2 separate regions of the Homo sapiens genome follow, and region 1 is linked to region 2. The links come from fine-mapping of genetic effects on gene expression. A gene starts in region 2. The other region holds a variant in brackets. All regions are shown on one strand. Distances are between the middles of the regions. Region 1 overlaps COLQ (collagen like tail subunit of asymmetric acetylcholinesterase). Region 2 holds the start of EAF1 (ELL associated factor 1).

The links. PIP is the estimated chance that this variant, and not a neighbour inherited with it, causes the effect.
Region 1: its variant is fine-mapped to the expression of EAF1 in whole blood (TOPMed, PIP above 0.99). The same link has a PIP of 0.9 or more in blood mononuclear cells.

The regions. Positions count from the first base shown.
Region 1 is chr3:15,456,146-15,466,717 of GRCh38, reverse strand. COLQ (collagen like tail subunit of asymmetric acetylcholinesterase) reads left to right here. Exons shown (of 17, transcript NM_005677.4): 12 at 281-377; 13 at 8,393-8,532; 14 at 10,139-10,258. Among named protein-coding and RNA genes, the nearest start is that of EAF1, 34 kb to the right of the region's middle. The variant C/G (reference allele first, on the strand shown) is at 5,365.
Region 2 is chr3:15,421,799-15,432,370 of GRCh38, reverse strand. It overlaps EAF1 (ELL associated factor 1), which reads right to left and starts at 4,773. Exons shown (of 6, transcript NM_033083.7): 1 at 4,489-4,773; 2 at 2,364-2,458; 3 at 148-284. The coding sequence starts at 4,591. METTL6 (methyltransferase 6, tRNA N3-cytidine) reads left to right here and starts at 4,827. Exons shown (of 6, transcript NM_152396.4): 1 at 4,827-4,969; 2 at 5,736-6,084; 3 at 7,282-7,416. The coding sequence starts at 5,860. RefSeq lists an enhancer at 4,417-4,696 and a silencer at 4,693-4,856.

The sequences.
Region 1 (10,572 bases), 34 kb before region 2:
ATCTGCCCAGGGCCTAGAGTAGATTTGACTGGTTCCTTTCAGCTGCCATGTGCCACATTTGTAGAGCAAGAACTAAGGTCTACAAATTTGTAGCCATCACTATCTCAAATGTCACTTGCCCTAAGCTTATTAAGAGCTCGATGGTCAAGACCTCTGGAGCTGCATCCCCCACTGGGCTCTTGCTCCTTAAGTGCAAGGTGATCTCTGATTTGGTGATAAATGGGGCGGGAAGCTTGCTATGTCATGCTTTCATAACAGGCTCTGCCTTTCTCTCTGTCAGGGACAGAAAGGGGATAGTGGAGTTATGGGCCCACCAGGCAAGCCTGGGCCTTCTGGTCAACCTGGCCGTCCGGGGCCCCCAGGCCCCCCACCTGCAGGTAAGAGCTACACTGCTTCACTTGATCCACTGTTGGAGTACTGGCCAGCCTCCCAGAGAGGGCACAAGGAGATGCCAGCAGAGATGCCTTGTGTTTCAAGTTAGAAACTACCAGAGACACTCCAATATCTTTGTAATTTCTCCACGATTTAGCTCATTCAACTTTTATGCAAGAGAGATAAATGCCATTCTGAATTTGTTTTAGCATTCTGGAGAACAAATAGAGGACAGAAAAAAAGCACATTAATGATGTCATTTATACCTTAAGTGAAAAATAACAGGAACATATTTCATCAACTAATACCTTTTTCTAGATAAAAGTGTCATGGCTCCAAGCAATTCTCTTAAACCTAGAAGTAAAGGTGACATTGCAGGTTTTTTCCAATTTACAGTGTTATAAAAGAGTCCTTATTTGTTTGCAATAGCTAGAGAAAGAGGCTGGGCATGGGTGGCTCACGCCTGTTATTTCAGCACTTTGGGAGGCCGAGACGGGCAGATCACTTGAGGTCAGGAGTTTGAAACCAGCCTGGTCAACCATGGCAAAAACCGTTCTGTTTTTGCTAAAATACAAAAATACAAAAATTAGCCTGGCATGGTGGCACGCGGCTGTAATCCCAGCTACTCTGAGGCTGAGGCAGAAGAATCACTTGAACCTGGGAGGCGGAGGTTGCAGTGAGCTGAAATTGTGCCATCTCGAAACTCTGTCTCCAAAAAAAAAAAAAAAAAAAAAAGATGTAGAAAGAAATTACTAAAATAAAATAAAAAAATAAAAAGTTGGCTGGGCGCGGTGGGTCACGCCTGTAATCCCAGCACTTTGGGAGGCCGAGGTGGGCAGATCACGAGATCAGGAGATTGAGACCATCCTGGCTAACACGGTGAAACCCCATCTCTACTAAAAATACAAAAAATTAGCCGGGCGTGGTGGCGGGCGCCTATAGTCCCAGCTACTTGGGAGGCTGAGGCAGGAGAACGGCATGAACCTGGGAGGCGGAGCTTGCAGTGAGTCGAGATCGCGCAACTGCACTCCAGCCTGGGTGACAGAGCGAGACTCCATCTCAAAATAAATAAATAAATAAATAAATAAATAAATAAATAAATAAATAAATCAAAATATAAAGTCTGTTATTGAGAAGGGCATAGATACACTGCTTCCTTGTATGTTGTTTTCAAGACGGAGCCTTGCTCTGTCGCCCAGGTTGGAGTGCAGTGGTGCGATCTTGGCTCACTGCAACCTCCACCTCCCGGGTTCAAGTGATTCCCCTGCCTCAGCCTCCTGAGTAGATGGGATTACAGGTGCCTTCCACCACGCCTGGCTAATTCTTGTATTTTTAGTAGAGATGGGGTTTCACCATTTTGTTCAGGCTGGTCTGGAACTCCGGACCTCGTGATCCGCCCACCTCGGCCTCCCAAAGTGCTGGGAATACAGGCGTGAGCCACCACACCCAGCTGCTGCTTCCTCTTTTACCTCATTCAATTTTATTAGCTAAGCCCTTTATTTCGTTCCCTTGTCAGCTCATGGTAGGGGCTTTCACAGCACATCAACTGTATAAAGACAGTATCAAGAAGATCATTTGTTGACTGCAACATTTTCTGTCTTCAGTTATACAAAAGGAATCCAAACAATTTTTATTCCAACTTTTTTCTTAAGAAAATGAAGACATTTACAATTCCACAGTGTATTCCCCCTCCTCCTGTGTTTATGGAACTATATTTGCAACCACATCATGGGATGGGCAAGAAATGTCATATTTTGTTAGATCCTTTAAACTAAGTTAAATCTGGCTCTGAGAGTCCAACCTACTAGGATGCCAAATAAATTAATTCAGGCATTATTAGGATTTTCACTACTCCTCCAACAACCACAAATAGGTTGGGCAAAGATCCTGGTGAATTATGGCAGAAAAATGTCAGGGAAGGTCCCTCCAACCTTTGGTCTACTCCATTCACCTCTGAAATAGAGTAGAAATAGAAATAGACTTGTTGTCCAAGTCCCTGTGGTCCACAGATACCTGGTGGCTGCTGTTCTCATGCCATACGTGGGTATCAGAACATTTTCAAGGCTGGGAGTCCTGGTCCCCACAGTTCAACTTTCCAAGGAGCACCCCACAACCATTCTTTCTGAGACCTGTCTCTTTCTCAGGATACAAGGGGTCCCTCTCCTGTCCATGTCTAGGGAGGTCTCTCCTCTTCCATCCCTGACCCCTCCTTCCTCATACTCCTCATATACCAGCACCCCAATTAGGAGCTTTGTCCTTCAGAGAACAGAAGGCAGAAAGAAAAGTTTGTTTCCAATAGTACCTGCTTTTAGCAAGGGCAAGAAAGCACAAACTCTTGCTACCTCCTTGAAATAGGGAGAGGAGGAAGGAAATACTGGGAGAACAAACACTGATTAGTATGGGTAATAACTTATGTTTGCTGCGCCTGTTTCCATGTTGTTAGGGGAATCAGATTTGAGATGCAGCCCAGGCCATGTGCCCACACTCCATAATTCATTTCTGGAATTGGCTGGATGATCTGAATGGGGGTCCTTTCAACTAGTCCTCTTCCTCCTTGGTTCTGGAAGGCATGATGTCCCCCTGGAGCCCCATAACTATGAGCTACCAACCGCAGAGACTGAGAGCTTGGCCTGAGTTGTGCCTTCAGAAGGGACTCTCTTGGCCCCTGGGGTACCTAGGGGCTCACAAAACTGAGGAGTAGGCCAGGCGCGGTGGCTCACACCTGTAATCCCAGCACTTTGGAAGGCCGAGGTGGGCAGATCATGAGGTCAGGAGATCGAGACCATCCTGGCTAACACAGTGAAACCCCATCTCTACTAAAAATACAAAAAATTAGCCGGGCGTAGTGGCGGGCGCCTGTAGTCCCAGCTACATGGGAGGCTGAGGCAGGAGAATGGCATGAACCCGGGAGGCGGAGCTTGCAGTAAGCCAAGATCGAGTCACTGCACTCCAGCCTGGGTGACAGAGCAAGACTCCATCTCAAAAAAAACAAAAAACAAAAAACAACAAAAACAACAAAAAAAAACAAAACCAAAACCAAAAAAAACTGAGGAGTAGTCCAGGGGCAATGGGATTGGTGGATGTGGGATGTGTAGGAGATCCTTAGCGGACTGGGATCTTAATGGTCTCACTGTGTTTATCTCTTTGTAAAGGCCAGCCCTCACCTGACTTGTCTGGTTCCCTCCTGGGGCTAGGGGATGGATGAGAAGGGCTAGGCTGGAGCTGTCAGCAGCTTCTTGGTGCCTGCTGTTTCTCTTGTCTTGTCTGTCTTCGGTGTATTGCAATCCTGTCCTCTTAGCAGGCCCCGCAGAGTCATACTTTTTCTCCCTGGCCTTCCAGCTCCCTCTCTTCCACCCAGTATGCCCACCTCCCTCTCCCTTGACTACCCCAGCCTCTGCCCAATCACGCCCTGCCCTCTACCCTTCAGAGGACACCTTGCCGTCTGTGGAGCTGGAGCTATTCCTATGGTCTCTCTGGGTCCACATGACCTTACATGGCACTCCTCTCACCTTCTGTCCATCCAACAAAATTCTCTGTTCCTTTGAAGCTCTCTTTTCAGTAAGGCCTTCCTTGGCCCCTAACAGGATGGATCACCCTCCCCTGAGCCCTGGTCATTGCCTCTCTGTTATGGCCTCTCCATTGGTAACGTTTCTGCAGATGTGTTTCATCTTCCCACTAGATCCTTGAGGGCGAGGTAGGCGGCTGAGTCAGCTTCACATCCCCAGTGGCACCTGGTATGTGGGTGGACAGGGCTGCTTCCTGCAGGGGCTCCCAGGCAGGGGTTCTGTGGGTTCACAGTTCATCTCCTTAGGAGCCAAGCAGGGTGGGACCATCTCTTTGGATTGATGCCCCCGCCCCCCATTCCGTCCTTTGAGCCACTTCCTTTCTGAGGAGGCTTCCTGAGTGAGCGGGCTGAAGAAGGTAAAGAGAAGATGGGGCAATAAATAATCCTGCTCTTTGGAAAATATTGGAGGGGTGGGGAGAGAGGGCAAGGAAGGAGTTAAAAAGAGATATTCAGCCGGGCGCGGTGGCTTACGCCTGTAATCCTAGCACTTGGGGAGGCTGAGGTGGACGGATCACTTGAGGTCAGAAGTTTGAGACCAGCCTGGCCAACATGGTGAAACCCCCATCTCTACTAAAAATACAAAAATTAGCCGGGCATGGTAGCGGGCACCTGTAATCCCAGCTACTCAGGAGGCTGAGACAGGAGAATCACTTGAACCCGGGAGGCGGAGGTTACAGTGAGCCGAGATCTCGCTACTGCACTCCCGCCTGGGCGACAGAGTAAGACTCCATCTCAAAAATAAATAAATAAATAAATAAATAAATAAATAAATAAATAAATAAGTTATCCCTGTGCCTGGGACCAGTTGGATAATCATCCAGAGTTGGACTAGGCCCCCCAAATTGGTTCCTGACACTACCTTTGACAGTCTGATGAAAGTCCCAAACCCATTCTCGGGGGGGAAAAAACTGTATATACCTACATCCAAGGTTTTGCACCCTGTTTCCCAGGGTTCCAGAACCCCTGTCCCAGCGCCATCGTGAGATAGCCTTGGCCTCTGTAGACCACAGGTTAAAACTCCCCTGGTCTAGTCCTACCCTCCCCTTAGAGAAAAGAATCTTGAACCTCAAAGAGAAGTGATGCCTGCAAGGTCACAGCAGTGACTGGGGGCCACCCTGGTCCAGAATGGGTGAGTGTCAGCCAGGCGGCCCTAGAGGTTGTTGTGCTGGTTCCTCTGCCCTCTCCTAGATTCCCCTTTCCTGATCCTTTCCCACTGAGGCAGCCAATGGAAGCGGGAGCCTGCCTGGGAAAAGATGGAGAGCCAGGTCCTCTGGCTGCAGGGGGTGGCGATGAAACCCAGCTGAGACATGATCTCCCAGAGGTCAGGGTGGGGAAGTTCAGGTTGCTGAGTCCTTTAGTATAGCCTGGCAGAAAACAGGCAGGGGTAACAGATGCCCTGCAGCAACTGGGAGGAAGCTGCAGGGAAA[C/G]TGCAGTGGTGGCAGCAGGCTCCCTGCCACATCCTGTTGGGAGGTGACCTCGGTTTCTGGTGCCCAGCTCTGTGGGACCAGATGGTGCTGGGGGAGGTGGAAAGGGTGAGAGCTTTGTACTTATCTGAGTTAGAGGGTAAGAGGGGCTAAGAGGTCGGGGGGGGAATAAAGGCAAAATGCCTTTAGGATGTAATTTGCAATAATCAAATTACAAATTTGGCTGAGTCCTTCCTGTACCCAGACAGAGTATAAGTGAATCAACGTGGTACCTGGGAATTGCCAGCTTCCTGAGAGCATCAGTATTCTTGGACATTTGTCTTTTGAACAGCATAGTGTTAAGTAAAACATGAATTCAAATCTCAGCCTCACCATTCATCAGCAGCTAATGGGACAAACTCCTGACTGTCTCTCAGGCCATGGTTCTGGAGGAGTTGTTGGGGTCACAGAGCCTTCTGGAAGGCTGTTCCAATGCCACCCTCATATTCTTGGTCACAGAGCTTTTCCACTTCAATTTCCCCAAGTGCTTAATTACCCAGAATATTCCTAGCCTGGTGGATTCCCTGTCTCTCTGGGCTCTTCTGAAAATATCAGAACACAGACTGGAGCTCTTCCTACAGAATTATATTTGTATTTCTTGTTAGAACAAACAACCATAACTTAGGATAAGATATTGGCACAGTGCCCTTCCCCTCATGCTGTCAGCATTCTGATTGTACGAATACCTGTCAACTCGCTCAGGAAAGTTCAGTCTCCTCCGACTGCAGTGTTTTCCCTGGGGTCCTGGCCAGATCTCTCCCCTGGGGTCATTTTATTTCCTGCCCTTCTGGATCTGTGAACTGTGTTCCCAGCCCCTGGCTGCCCCAGATGTCATACTGCCTGACACCAATGACTGGCTGGCCTCCAAACCCACCCCTCGCTATTTTCCCAGAAGAAGGGATCCTTACCTATTTCTCTTCTCAGTCCCCATCTTTTTTTCTCTTTCCTCACTTCCTGTTAGATGGCTTTTGTTCTGGTGCTTTTCTGCCAGCCAGAATGTGACTTTTACCCTCTTCTGAAGACTTTTTCTCTCCAATTAGTCGGCATTCATTCATTCGATCATCAAACACTTTCCATGCCCCTACTTTGTGTAAGCCCTGGTGGATGAAAACAGGCACTAGCCCTGTCCTTGTGGAGCGACATTCTACTGGAGATCAACCTTGATGGAATAATCTCACAATATATAGAATCACAAAGAGAAGTGCTGTGAAGAAAGGCATAGGAAACCATGAAATTGTATCCCAGGTATACATGACAGAGTCTGAGGATTCAAAAAGTCTTCCTTCAAGAAGTGATGTTTGAACCCAGATCAGAAGGGAGTTGAGAGGCAGCTGGGGAGGGATGGAGGATGAAGGGAGGATGATCTGGCAGGGGAATGGCCCAGTTCTCAACCTTGGGGCAAATTGGAATCATCTTGAGAGCTTTTAAAAATATGGATGCCTAGCACATGTATACATATGTAACTAACCTGCACATTGTGCACATGTACCCTAAAACTTAAAGTATAATAATAATAATAATAATAAAATATGGGTGCCTGACCAGGCGCGGCAGCTCACACCTGTAATCCCAGCACTTTGGGAGGCCAAGGGAGATGGATCACTTGAGGTCAGGAGTTCGAGACCAGCCTGGCCAACAGAGTGAAACCCTGTCTCTACTAAAAACACAAAAATTAGCCAAACCTGATGGCACGTGCCTGTAGTCCCAGCTACTCAGGAGGTTGAGGCAGGAGAATCACTTGAACCTGAGAGGCGGAGGTTGCAGTGAGCTGAGATTACACCACTGCACTTCACCCTGGGCGACAGAGTGAGGCTCCGTCTCCAAAAAAAAAAAAAAAAAGGATGCCTTATGCTAAAGTGGTAAAAAAATTTTTTTTAATAAATAAATAAAAGTGTGGATGCTGCCTAGGTTCAGTTCAGTTTTCAGAAGTCTTGATGGAATTGGTCTGAGGTGTATCCTGGGTATCAGAGCCTTTAAAAACCAAGGTACTACCCTCACAGTTCTTCCACATTGCTAGGGAGTACACTTTCTGATCATATCTTTTCAAGACATGTCCTCACTTCTTCAGCACCAGGGGAGGGTAAATGGGCAGAGCATATACTAATGTTCTATTTTCTTCCAGAAGAAATGAAAGAAACCCACATCCAGAAATTCCTCTGTAAAGATCCTACATTGGCTGGGTATGGTGGCTCACGCCTGTAATCCCAGCACTTTGGGAGGCTGAGGTGGGCGGATTACTTGAGGTCAGGAGATCGAGACCAGCCTGGCCAACATGGCAAAACCCCGTCTCTACTAAAAATACAAAAATTAGCCTGGTGTGGTGGCACACACCCGTAATCCCAGCTACACAGGAGGCTGAGGCAGGAGACTCACTTGAACCTGGGAGGCAAAGGTTGTAGTGAGCCAAGATCGTGCCACTGCACTCCAGCCTGGGCAACAGAGCAAGACTCCATCTCAAAAAAAAAAAAAAATTCTATATATAAGAAAAACAAAAGTTTTTTAAAACAATAAAAGTTAACAGTCAATAATGTGTTTGTCGGCAAGAAGCCCTCTGTTAATAATGGTCTAAACAAATAAGACATTGTTTTTCTCCAATAAAGAAATCCAGAGGCAGGCAGTAGCTGGCTTTGATTCAGCCTCTGACTGTCACTGTCAGGGCCCCAGGCCCCATGAGCCTTTCGTCTTTCCTGCATGTTGGCTTATCTTCTCATGCTTGTGACTTCCTGGTTGCAACACGGCTGCTGCAACACCAGACATCTTGCCTGTCTTCAAGGCAGGAAGGAGGGGGAAACTATCGCCTACCAGCTATTTTTCTTACCTTAGCTCCTCCATGTCTTGGATCAAAAGCATCTCTTTGAACCTCTCCCTCAGGCATACCCTGAAATGCTGTGGACTTTAACCTTTTTTCTGTTGCAAAGGTCGCTCACATCTCCCTGGTTGTTTGGTCTTCTCTTCCTTGGCTCTAGTAACACAGCAGTCTGTTGCTTCCTAGGACAACTTATAATGGGACCCAAAGGGGAAAGAGGATTTCCCGGGCCTCCAGGAAGATGTCTTTGTGGACCCACTATGAATGTGAATAACCCTTCCTACGGGGAATCTGTGTATGGGCCCAGTTCCCCGCGAGTTCCTGTGGTAAGGCTTTCTGGGAGAAGTCTGGGGTGGTTATCCGTGAGGACCTCTCACCTGATCCTTATGGGGCTTTGTAAAATCCTTTCAGTAAAACTAACTTTTTTTCACGACTCTGAGTACACCCTCATTATAGGAAATTGGAAAATATGAGAAAATCAAGAGGAAAACCAAATTGTCCATTTGATTGTGAGTCCATTTTGGGGTATTTTCTTTGTCTTATTAAAATCTAACTTTTATATGGTTGAGATTATATTGTATAAAAATGTACTTTTGGCCGGGCATGGTGGCTTATGCCTGTAATCCCAGCACTTTGGGAGGCCAAGGTGGGTGGATTATAAGGTCAGGAGTTCGAGATCAGCCTGGCCGATACAGTGAAACCCCATCTCTACTAAAAAATATATTTAAAAAATTAGCCGGGCGCGGTGGTGCACGCCTGTTGTCTCAGCTACTTGGGAGGCTGAGGTGGGAGAATCGCTTGAACCCAGGAGGCGGAGATTGCAGTGAGCTGAGATAGCACCACTGCACTCCAGCCTGGGCAACAGAGCGAGACTCCGTCTCAAAAAAAGTTATACTTTGTTATCTTAGTTGAAATCCTGCCATGTTTCCACACTCTATAAATAACATTTTAAACTTTTTATTAGGGAAAATTTCAAATACATATAAAAGCAGAACAAATAGTGTAATGAACCCCTGTGTACCCTTCACCCAACTTTAATAATGATCAACTCATGGCGAGCCTGTGTCCTTGTTTTCTCTTTATGCCTACTCACTCCTGCCCATTCTCTGTTGTATTATTTTGAAGTAAACCTTGGACATCTGTTCATCATAATCATCCATCTAGTGTGGCTGTGCTACAATTTACTTAACCAGTGTTGGTGTTTAACCAACCTATTGCTTATTGGCCACCCCCAAGCTTTTTACTAATGTAAATAATGCTGTAAAGAATATCTTTGAGTAGGATAATTTTAAGAATCACTTCCAGATGTCAAATTACTTGACTATATGACATTGCCTTTTAACTTAAGTCTTGGGAACGTTTTAAATATTTAAAAATGTTAAATCCGAGGCCGGGCGCGGTGGCTCATGCCTGTAATCCCAGAACTTTGGGAGGCCGAGGTGGGTGGATCACCTTGAGGTCAGGAGCTCGCAACCAGCCTGGCCAACATGGCGAAACCCTATCTCTACTAAAAATACAAAAGTTAGCCAGGCATTGTGGTGCACACCTGTAATCCCACCTACTCGAGAGGCTGAGGCAGGAGAATTGCTTGAACCCGGGAGGCAGAGGTTGCAATGAGCCGAGATCACGCTACTTCACTCCAGCCTGGGCAACCGCGTGAGACTCCATCTCAAAAACAAAAGAAAAAAAGAAAAAAAAGTTAAATCCGAGTGAATATTTTAGTTTCAAACTCAGACATTAGGAACTCGATTGAGAAGATGAGGGAATCAAGACACTCCTCTCACTTCAGAAGGAATGCTAGAGTGTAGTGTGCAAACCCCTCTTCCCACTGTTGAGCAGCCCAAGGATAGAGATTCTGTTTCCTCCTCCAGCTTTTTTCCTGCCCCCTGCAGAAGTGTTTTCTGGAATCCTCACCAGTGTGTTCTCTGGCAGATTTTTGTGGTCAACAACCAGGAGGAGCTTGAGAGGCTGAACACCCAAAACGCCATTGCCTTCCGCAGAGACCAGAGATCTCTGTACTTCAAGGACAGCCTTGGCTGGCTCCCCATCCAGGTACCCCCAGGCCATTACCTCAGGACATACTCCCTGCCCAGGAGAGAGATGCATCCATTAAAGGAAGGGAAGGCCACCCCACTGGGCCTGGGGAGGGCTTTCTACAGTCTGTCTGCATGGGAGGGCTGAGCATCCTCCCTCAAACTCTCTCTGAGCAGCCCTCCATTCCCCCACCCTGACTCCCAAATAGAAGCCCCTCTCTGAGCCAGGGTTCCAGATGGTCTCCACATCCCTGCGTGCCAGGTTGCTGTCTTGATCTGACCCAACATTTAACCAGCTACAGAGCTCTGGGCAACAGGAAAGGAGTACCTTTC
Region 2 (10,572 bases):
TATTTACATATTTTGTCTGAGCACAGGTAGTGTTAAGATTATTGATAGAACACTATGAGCAAGCAGATGTTCACAACCTTATAAAAACTGAATAGATAACAGAGGTTTGGAAACATGATATAAACCTGCATCTGGCTATTCACATACCTTGTTTTCTTCACCTGAATGCTGCTACTGAGTTTTTCCAGCACATATTCACCAGTGTCATGATTAATAATAAGCACACAGTCTTTCTGGTAAGGCCGTTTGTTCCCCTTGAACACAGTCATGGGTGGTGTGGATCCCTATTTGCCACAAAAGTATAAGATGATCAAACTAAACATACCAGTTATGAATATCAACTGAATTTATAGATGACTCCACCTGATGAAATCTTTTATCAGAGCTATTCAAAAAGAACAGGTTGAACTGATTTCTATTTTATCTCCTTCTGGTTTCCGAGGCAAAAATAAAGGAGAAATAATATAGCAAGAATTTGTGAATGTGCAACGCGTTCTAAGTAATCAAAAAGGTAGTATAAAAGTTTTAATTACTATATACGTTCCAAGAGAGAAAAATTAACCATTACTTTCATTATACTAAGCAGAGTTATCACTCTGTATAGTAAAACTGTGAGTGATCTCTATTTCTTTGTCATTAGAGAGACCAGGGTTTCCCCTTCTCATGTCAAGCAACCAACAGAGCATTTTCCAAGAGAAGGTCATTATCCTGGTTGGCTCAGAATAAATAAATCATGTCACTCATCTGCCTAAGCCTTTCAATCACTCCTCAATTGCTCTCAGGCCAAAGGATAAAATCTTTAAACTAGCCACTTGGCCTTGCACTACCGGGCCCTTCCCTGGCTCTCCACCTCACCCTGCAGCATACTCCCCTGCGCATGTGCTTCAGAGCAGAAGGCAACTGGCTTCCCTCCTATCCTCAAGCTCTCTCCTGCCTCTGGGCTTTAACAAGGCTTCTGCCAGCTTTAACAAGGCTTCTGCCAGCTATATCCTGCCCCCTCTCTTTAAATGACCCAACCTCCAGATCTGCTCACAGATACTTCCTTAAGGAAGCTGTCCCTGATTTTGTAGAATAACTGCTATATTTTCTTGTATTAATTTAAACTCCAGACCATAAGCTCCACCAGGGCAAGAAATGTGCTTGTTTTGTTCAAGGTTATATACTTCATGCCTAGTAATGGGCCAATGTGTGGGAGGCATTTGATTAATATTTGTTGAATATCATATTTAATGCCTTGCTTAGAATAAAAAACTGCTTGGCTCTTTGACTCCTTATTTATATAGTAAAAATATAGAGCTAGAAAGAACTTTAGGGACCATTTTTCTAAACCTTTCATTTTACATATGGGAAACTAAGGTCCAAAGGGAGATGATGTAACTTGCCAAAGGTAACAAGTAATCAAACAGCAGTTTGAATGGGCAATTTTTCCTCACCACAAAGCTTTCCAGATCTCCCTGTCCAGAGACTTTTCATTCTGTCTCCAGCTACCGAGAACTTATGTTCCAGGACAGGGGTGTGACATGCAATAACACATGTTCACTAAGAGCATCATGTGACCCTTTGGTGCTTTGTCATTAGTGCTGCCTTGGGCAGAGCTTCACAAAAGTCTTTCTCTGCAAGGGTTCTTAATCCAGCTTTCAATTTAGTTCTTCATCCCTAAATCAGCTGAATGTGCCACACCTGTGGTTCCTGCCTGCCTTAACTCCTGGCTTGGTTGCCTCACACTCCTGAGCTGTTGTGGCCATATAATCAGCAGGGCACCTAGGGCTTTTCTGTCTGGAGTTGCTTGGGAGAAAAGCTATATCTAAAAGAGGGGCTAGGTGTCCAGACAGGAACCTTGTCTACTCAGTAGCAGATGGGGGAAAAGGAAGATTGGGGAAAACGACGAATAATCTTTTTTTTTTTTTTTTTGAGGGGGAGTCTCACTCTGTCGCCCAGGCTGGAGTGCAGTGGCGTGATCTTGGTTTACTGCAACCTCTACCTCCCAGGCTCAAGCGATCCTCCCAGCTCCGCTTCCCAAGCAGCTGCAACCACAGACATGTGCCATCACCCCCAGCTAATTTTTTGTATTTTTGGTACAGACGGGGTTTCACCATGTTGCCCAGGCTGGTCTTTAACTCCTGAACTCAAGCTATCCACCCACTTCCACCTCCCAAAATGCTAGGATTACAAGAATTATTTTTAATCAAGCACCTGCCTAGCATGAAGTCCACCCCACCCCACTCCCCAAAATTACTTTTTTCCTTAAGTTGCCACTTTAGAAATCTAAACATTTTTAAAAGTAGGAAGTTTAAATTGCAATAATATAAAAGACAAAGATTCATTGTGATCTTACATTAAAAAAAAAAATGAAATAAACTCACAGGGATATGTGGCAGTGTAATTGTGACTTCATCTCCTTTGCCAACTTGAAGCTCTCCTTCACAGGAAGTGTCTATAGATGCTGGTTTAAAATCATCTAAAGGGAAAGGAAAAAAAGCACTTACCCACCAGGTTACTTATAATAAGGGTTTCCTGGGCATCTCCATTTAAGAATTAAAATTATTACTCAGATGAATGGAAAATAAAAATAATTTAGAATTCTTAAAAAACTGTTTCGTTATGGAAAACTTCAGATACACAAAAGTAGAGAGAATCGTACAATGAGACCTGGTATACCATTATCCAGTTTCAATTATTACCAACTCAGGGACAATCTTGTTTCATCTACACCTCCACATACTTTTCCTCTGACCCCCTTTTGATTATTCTAGAGGGAAAAAAGAATTTACAGGCCATTTTATTAAACAAAGATATTCCCTTCTCCCAAGGGAGAGAGGAAAATTGTCTCATCATCCATAATAAGTTGCTTTTTTAGGGTTGTGAGGATCAAAAGTAACAGCATATGAAACAGATTCTGTGACTGTAAACTCTATATGAAATATGAAAGGCCACAGCATCATCAAAAGCTGATTTCATTCCGCATAGAAACTGTCAAAATTAGGATTTGCCATACTCAAGTTCCATAGCTGTTTTTTGTTTTTTTTTTTTTTTAATAGTGATGGGGTCTCACTATGCTGCCCAGGCTGGTCTCAAACTCCTGGGCTCAAGCTATCTGTCGACCTCGGCCTCCCAAAGTACTGGGATTATAGTGTCAGCCACCACTCTCAGCCAGTTCCACAGCTTTAACAAAGACACTTCGTAGATGTTCATAGCAGACAACTGAACTGTATCTCCGCAAGTTATCCTGCTCGTGTTTCTAAACTGCAGTTAGAATACAACATAATAGCCATCTTAATTCACATTCACACCTGCCTCAAACTGCAGGACAGGTGCACACATGAACTATATGATTTAAATTCCACATTGCCCTTCACCAAAAGAAAACATCAACTTAGTAAACTCTTCAGGAAATGATGTTCTTATCTTATTCCCATCTCTTCTCTCTGAAAGAGCTGGATCTGCTGTCAGTAGGAAGCATAGCAATGGCATGGCAAGTGACTACACAAAGATGGGATTTCATTATCTAAAACGCCCTCTTCACATGTGTTGAGTCACATCTATTAGGTCCTCTGACAAAAACAAGTCTTAACAACAGCGTTAGCACCACGGAAACCAGAAGTTCATGAATCACGGAGGGATGCTCTGTCAGCCAATTCCTAACTGCCAAACCTTCACCCAGGACATAGGGTGGAAGTGCACTCTCTCAACAGCGTCTATAATTATGTAGAAAAAGGTCCGGCATAATGACTATTTGGACATTCCTTACGCCTGCTCTCTTCTGCTTCCAAACGTAGACCAATCTTTAACCTATCCCAGGCTCACGAACTCTGATTTGACTCTTTACCCACAAGGAACTTGGTCTGGAGGAAAAGCCCGGGTGGTATAGGTGACCTCAAAAGACATCCAAGTCAAATGAAGCACAGAAAGGAGATGGAAGAAGACTCTGATGAGGCGCAGAGAGGATGCCAATTCTTTGGCTGTAGAGGGGACAAAGCACAGTATTTGGGAGTCCAGGACCAAGTCGGAGGAGAAAAGCAGGGAAGAGAATGGGTTCTAAGGCAGTGGATGAGGCTCATAACAAACAAGAAGCGTCTTTTAAATGTGGAGAACCCTGATGGGAGCATCGGAAAGGAGGGGAGGGGTTTCGAGGGAGAAGTGGACCCGGATAAGAGGGGGGAGGTTTGCCTTGGGGGAGGGAGGTTTGCCTTAGGGGCGAGGTTGGGGGCGGGGAGGGATGGAAATGGAAAGAGGCCAAAGACCTTTGGAACTAGTGTTTGAGACTGTGAGGTAGAAGAATAGTAGGGAGTGACGAAGATTTGGGAGAAATAATCTGGGTAAAAGAAGGGACAAATCGATGTCCCAAAGGATTTGGGGTTCGAGAGAAAGTAACTGACGCTGGCAGGGGGTTCCCTGGAATCTGAAGGGCCGAGGGAAGAAAGGAAGGAGTCAAGGTTGATATGTGGCGGCTGGAGCGGCCGAAGGGAACCGTGGGGAGCGCTGACTTACAACGAATAGTGTGGAAGGAGGCCCGCGGCCGCTTCTCGAAGCTCTCCCCGAGCCTCAGGCAATGTTCCTCGCGGTCCAGCAGCGGGTTTGCGGTCCCATTCATGGCCCCGCACCTGCCTCGCACCCAGATCGGCGCTCTCCCGGTGCAGCCGCGATCCGAGCTTCTGGCGCTGGCGTCTGGGAGGACTGTGCTTCCGGGCCACCGCTCTGGAAGACAAGGAGAGCCGAGCCGGCACCCACCCGGGTCCAGAAGCAAGTTCTCTCCTCTGCGTGGGGGTGAGAGAGGAATCTGAGGAGGCAAGGCCGTGGGACTTCCGGCGTCGGGTAGGAACTTCCGGGTTCCTAGCGGAAGTGGCGGGGGCGGTGCCATGGCAAAAGAACTCCCGGATAATCCGAATTCGTGGTCCTCAGAATTGGTTTAGGGTTGTTTCGCGGTTCTTCCCGTATTCTGCCTCCGAGGCCCAGTGGGGCTGGCTGTGGGGTGAGTGCGCCTGGCCCTAGCCCTGCAGGTGAATTTAGGAACTGATGACGGTGAGCCCTGAGCGTGGCTGACTAAATTAACGCGGGTCGGCTAGCCATCATGGACGCCCTCCTCAGGGTCTAGGGGCCCATGCAGCCTAGTCTATCCTGAGGGTCCTGAGATGGATCCTCGGGACCTCAGCCACGCGTCATTGGGTCTCTTTCTCCACTTTGCCCGGTGATGGCGGTGCGAGGGTCTCAGTCCCTGCAAAGTGACGCTCCCTCTGGTTCCTATGACAGCCTCTTGTGAGTGTGATCAGGAAATGAGCCCACCCAGGCTTAGCTTCATTTCCCCCGAAAAAACGGAGGTCCGACCCTTGGGAAACGATGACCTCACTTGTATCTGACAATTGACCACCCGCTTCCAGCTAAGGCCATTGTGGTTTTTAAGTCACCCCTTTCGCGGGCACCGAAAATTGAGGAATATTTTCTTCGCAAGGTTTCCCAGTCAGTTCTTGAGAGCGTCCTTTTTCGTAAACTAAATCGATTTATTGTAATAGTTGACTCATCTGGTTTGAATAAAAGTATGGTGCATGAGATAGTCTGGCCACTGAAATGAATGTAAGCCCACTGAAGGTAGGGACTGTGTGTTTGTCTTCTTTGTGACCTCTCATATAGCGGGAAGGATTTTTTTTTGTACAGTCTGCATCTCATAAACATTTGGTGAATTGAACCTGGCGTCTTGAACTGTAACCACTAACCAGAATCTAATTCTTTTCTCTGCGAAGCCCCCTGTGCTGTTTGAGGCGTGAAACTCACCTCAGGAAATGTATCTGATCCATTAGCGTGGATTCATATTATTTGGTGATGGAGAATCTTCAGCTGTGTTAAGTGTTACCGTCAGTTTCAGAGATGGCTTCTTTGCAAAGGAAAGGGCTGCAGGCAAGGATTCTCACCTCTGAAGAAGAGGAGAAACTGAAAAGAGACCAAACTTTGGTGTCTGATTTTAAACAGCAGAAATTGGAACAAGAGGCTCAGAAAAATTGGGATCTTTTTTACAAAAGAAATAGCACTAATTTCTTCAAAGACAGACACTGGACCACCAGAGAGTTTGAGGAGCTAAGATCATGTAGAGAGGTAAGCTAATATTACGCCTTATCTGAGCTGTTCTTCATTTAAAATGTGAAGAGGGTGCCATGGCTCATGCCTGTAATCCCAGTACTTGGGGAGGCCAAGGCAGGCGGATCACGAAGTCAAGAGATCGAGACCATCCTGGCCAACATGATGAAACCCCGTCTTTACTAAAAATACAAAAATTAGCTGGGTGTGGTGGTGCTCGCCTGTAGTCCCAGCTACTTGGAAGGCTGAGGCAGGAGAATCGCTTGAACCCGGGAGGCGGAGATAGCAGTGAGCCGAGATTGTGCCACTGCACTCCAGCCTGGTGACAGAACGAGACTCTGTCTCAAAAGAAAAAAAAATGTGAAGAGGTGTGCTGTATTGCATTCCTAGGGAGAGTGCGAAGTAGAGAATTTAAGAAGCCTATCAAAATGCTTTGCGTTTTAGGAGAGAAATATACTGTTTGGTCTTAACACCAAAGTTTTAGCAGTTTCTGGTTTGGTTAACATATAGGAGAGAGAACTTTAGTGGGTGTTTTCTATTTCTTTAAGCTGATCTGATAGTTGTAAACATTATATATTAAATTCAAGAGCCAGGTCTGGTGGCTATTGCCAGCTACTCCAGAGGCTGAGGCAGGCGGCTTGTGCCTGTGAATAGTCAACATGAATTAGCCAAGCCTAGGCAGCATAGTGAGACCCTATGTTCTGAATTTTAAAATTTTAAACATTAAAAATTTTAAAAACAAAAATATAAATTCATGCTAAGTGACTTCAGTGACAGATTCAGAATAATATAATAGTTAATGTTAGTAACTATTTACCATGGCTGTTTTCTACATGGCCTATCATTTGACCCTTATACCGGCTCTGTGAAGTGTAAGTATTAGTATTGTACTCATTTGTCCCCAAGGTAAAATTGAGGCACAGAGCTGTTTAAGTGATTTACCCAAGGATAGAATGCAGGGGAGGAGTTGAGATTTGGGTGCTGGCAGTTTAACTCCAGAGCCGAGTTAGCCATTGTGCTGTTTTTTTCCTCCACACCAAATTGTTAATGTTGGATGACAAATGAAGTACCAGTATTAGCTTTTGCTTATTAGTTCTCTTGTTGATCGTCTGCTCCATGGGGTCGGAGACCTCTCATATTCTGGACCTTTTAGTTTGGTTTATTTCTTCATTATGCAAATGTGATATACTATAACTTTGAGCTGTCTTTCCCCAGTTTGAAGATCAAAAGTTAACAATGCTTGAAGCTGGCTGTGGGGTTGGAAACTGTTTATTCCCACTTTTAGAAGAAGATCCGAATATCTTTGCCTATGCCTGTGATTTTTCTCCAAGAGCCATTGAATATGTTAAGGTTGGTGCACCATCTATGTATTCTGCTGTGTTTCTGTTTTCTTGCCGATCTTGTTTGATCTGCCTTTTTTATTCATTTGCCCAATTCTAGTCTTCCCTGGAGCTAACCAGCTATAGTCACCATACATGTAGTTGTCCTGCTTACATACATATACAGTGCATGTAGAAACACAGCTTTATTCAAGAAAAGCAGGAAAAAATACCATAATAACATCCATATAATTAACATCTTTTGCTTTACAATTTTTCTTTGCTGAACTATTTTAAAGTATATTACAAATGTCAAGACATTTCACTCCTAAATGTTTGCATACATCTCCCCTTAAAAAAGGCCTTTTTCTACACAACCACAATAAGTTTATCATATTTCACAAAAATAACTATAATCTGGCCTGCCATGTTGGTTCGCACTTGTAATCCCATCAGTTTGGGAGCCTGAGGCTGGTGGATAGCTTGCACCCAGTAGTTCAAGACCAGCCTGGGCAACATGGTGAAACCTTGTCTCTACCAAAAATACAAAAATTAGCTGGGCATGGTGGTGCTTACCTGTAATCCCAGCTAATTGGGAGGCTGAGGTGGGAAGATCACTTGAGTCAGGGAAGTGGAGGTTGCAGTGAGCCAAGATTGCAGCACTGCACTCCAGCCTAGGTGACAGAGCAAGACTGTCTTTAAATAAACAAATAAAATAACATAATCCCCCAATGTTATTAACATCCATTCCAAATTCAGATTTCCCCAAATAGTTCCCGGTGTCTTTTAGTTTTATTTTTTACTTTTTTTAGAGATGGGTTCTTTGTCACCCAGTTGAAATGCAGTGGCATGAACATGGCTCACCACAGCCTCAACCTCCTGGGCTTAAGCGATTCTTTCACCTCAGCCTCTCAAGTAGCAGAGACAATTTTTTAATTGTTTGTAGAGATGGGGTCTCACTATGTTGCCCAGGATGGTCTCAAACTCCTGGGCTCAGGTGATCAACCTGCCTCAGCCTCCCAAAATGCTGGGATTACAGGTATGAGCCACTGTACCTGGCTTCCAGGTGTCTTTTATAGCTGGTTTTTGTTTTTGTTTTTGTTTGAGACATGGTTTCACTCTCACCCAGGCTAGAGTGCAGTGGCCCAATCACAACTCACTGCAGCCTTGACCCCCCTGGCTCAAGCAGATCCTCCCACCTCAGTCTCCCAAGTAGCTGGGACTACAGGCATGTGCCACCGTGCCCAGCTAGTGTTTATTTGTTTATTTATTTATTTTAGAGATAAGGTCTCACTGCGTTGCCCAGGCTGGTCTCGAACTTCTGGGCTCAAACAATCCTCCCACCTCAGCCTCCCAAAGTGCTGAGATTACAGGCGTGAGCCATGGCAGCTGACCCTGGCTAGTTTTTAAATTTTTGTAGAGATGAGGTTTCCCTATGTTGCCTAGGCTGGTCTCAAACTCCTGAGCTCAAGCAATCCTCCCTCCTCAGACTCCCAGAGTGTGGGATTACACCCTGCCTATAGCTGTTTATAATCCAGTCAAGCACTACCTCTTACACTTATGTCCTTTATTTTTTATTTTAGTTTATTTTTTGAGACGGAGTCTCGCTCTGTCGCCTAGACTGGAGTGCAGTGGTGCAATCTCAGCTTACTGCAACCTCCACCTCCTGGGTTCAAGTGATTCTCCTGCCTCAGCCTTCCAAGTAGCTGGGATTACAAGTGCCCACCACTCCTGGCTAATTTTTGTATTTTTAGTAGAGATGGGGTTTCGCCATGTTAGCCACGCTGGTCTCAAACTCCTGGCCTCAGGTAATCCACCCGCCTTGGCCTCCCAAAGTGCTGGGATTACAGGCGTGAGCCACCACGCCTGGCTCACTTATGTCCTTTAAATCTCCTTAACCTAAAATACCCTTGCCCTACCCCATACCTCTTTCCACATTGATGACAGATGAAGCCAATTTTCTATAGTAAATTTCCAAATTGGTCTAATTGTTTATTTGCATTACTGTTTAATTTATTCCTCTATGTTCTATATTATCTGTGAACTAGAAGTTAAATTTAAATCAGGTAAAATATTTTTGGCAAAAATGCTTTAATAGGTAATGTTGTGTCTTGCATATTACATCCTGTCATGAGGCAATAATATCTGGAGATCTTACTGGTTTTGATCACAGGGTTAAGATAGTAACTACCTAATTCCTCCATTGTAAAATTCCCTTTGCCATTAACCAATATGTGGGGAACACTTTGGTGACATTGCAAGTATCTCGTTCCCCATCAACCTTTCACAGTTTTAGCATTCGTTAGACTTTTTAAAATTTAAACTTTTTTTTTAAGTTAATCTTATTATTATTATTTTAATTGACATGGTCTTGCTTTGTCACCCAGGCTGGAGTGCAGTGGTGTGTATTAGAGCTCACTGCAGCCTCAAACTCCTGAGCTGAAATGATCCTCCTGCCTCTGCCTCTCAAGCAGCTGGGTCTACACGCACATACTACCACCCCTGGCTAATTTTTGTATTTTTTTGTAGAGACAGGGTTTCTCCATTTTGCCCAGCCTGGTCTTTCTGAACTCAAGTGATCTGCCTGCCTTGGCCTCCCAAAGTGCTGGGATTACAGGCATCAGCCACCGCATCCAGCCTATTTTTATTTTTTATTTTTTGAGATAGGGTCTCACTCTGTCACCCAGGATGGAGTGCAGTTGCACAGTCATGACTCACTGCAGCCTTGACTTCCCAGGCTCAAGTGATCCTCCCACCTCAGCCTCTTGAGTAGCTGGGGTTACAGATGCACACCACCACACCCAACTAATTGTTTTATTTTTTTGTAGAGACGGGTCTCACTACGTTGCCTAGGCTGTTCTCAAACTCCTGGGCTCAAGAGATCCTCCCATCTCTGCCTCCCAGAGTGCTGGGATTAACTCCCACCTCTGCCTCCCAAAGTGCTGGGATTAAAAGCGTGAGCCACCACACTCAGCCACATTAGACTTTTGAAAATAGTAACCTTACCAGCCTAGGCAACAAAGTATGACTCTGTCTCTACAAAAAAAAATTATTTTATTTTATTTTTTAATTTGAGATGGAGTTTCACTCTTATTGCCCAGGCTGGAGTGCAGTGGCACGATCTCGGCTCACTGCAACCTCCACCTCCCGGGTTCAAGCAATTCTCCTGCCTCAGCCTCCCAAGTAG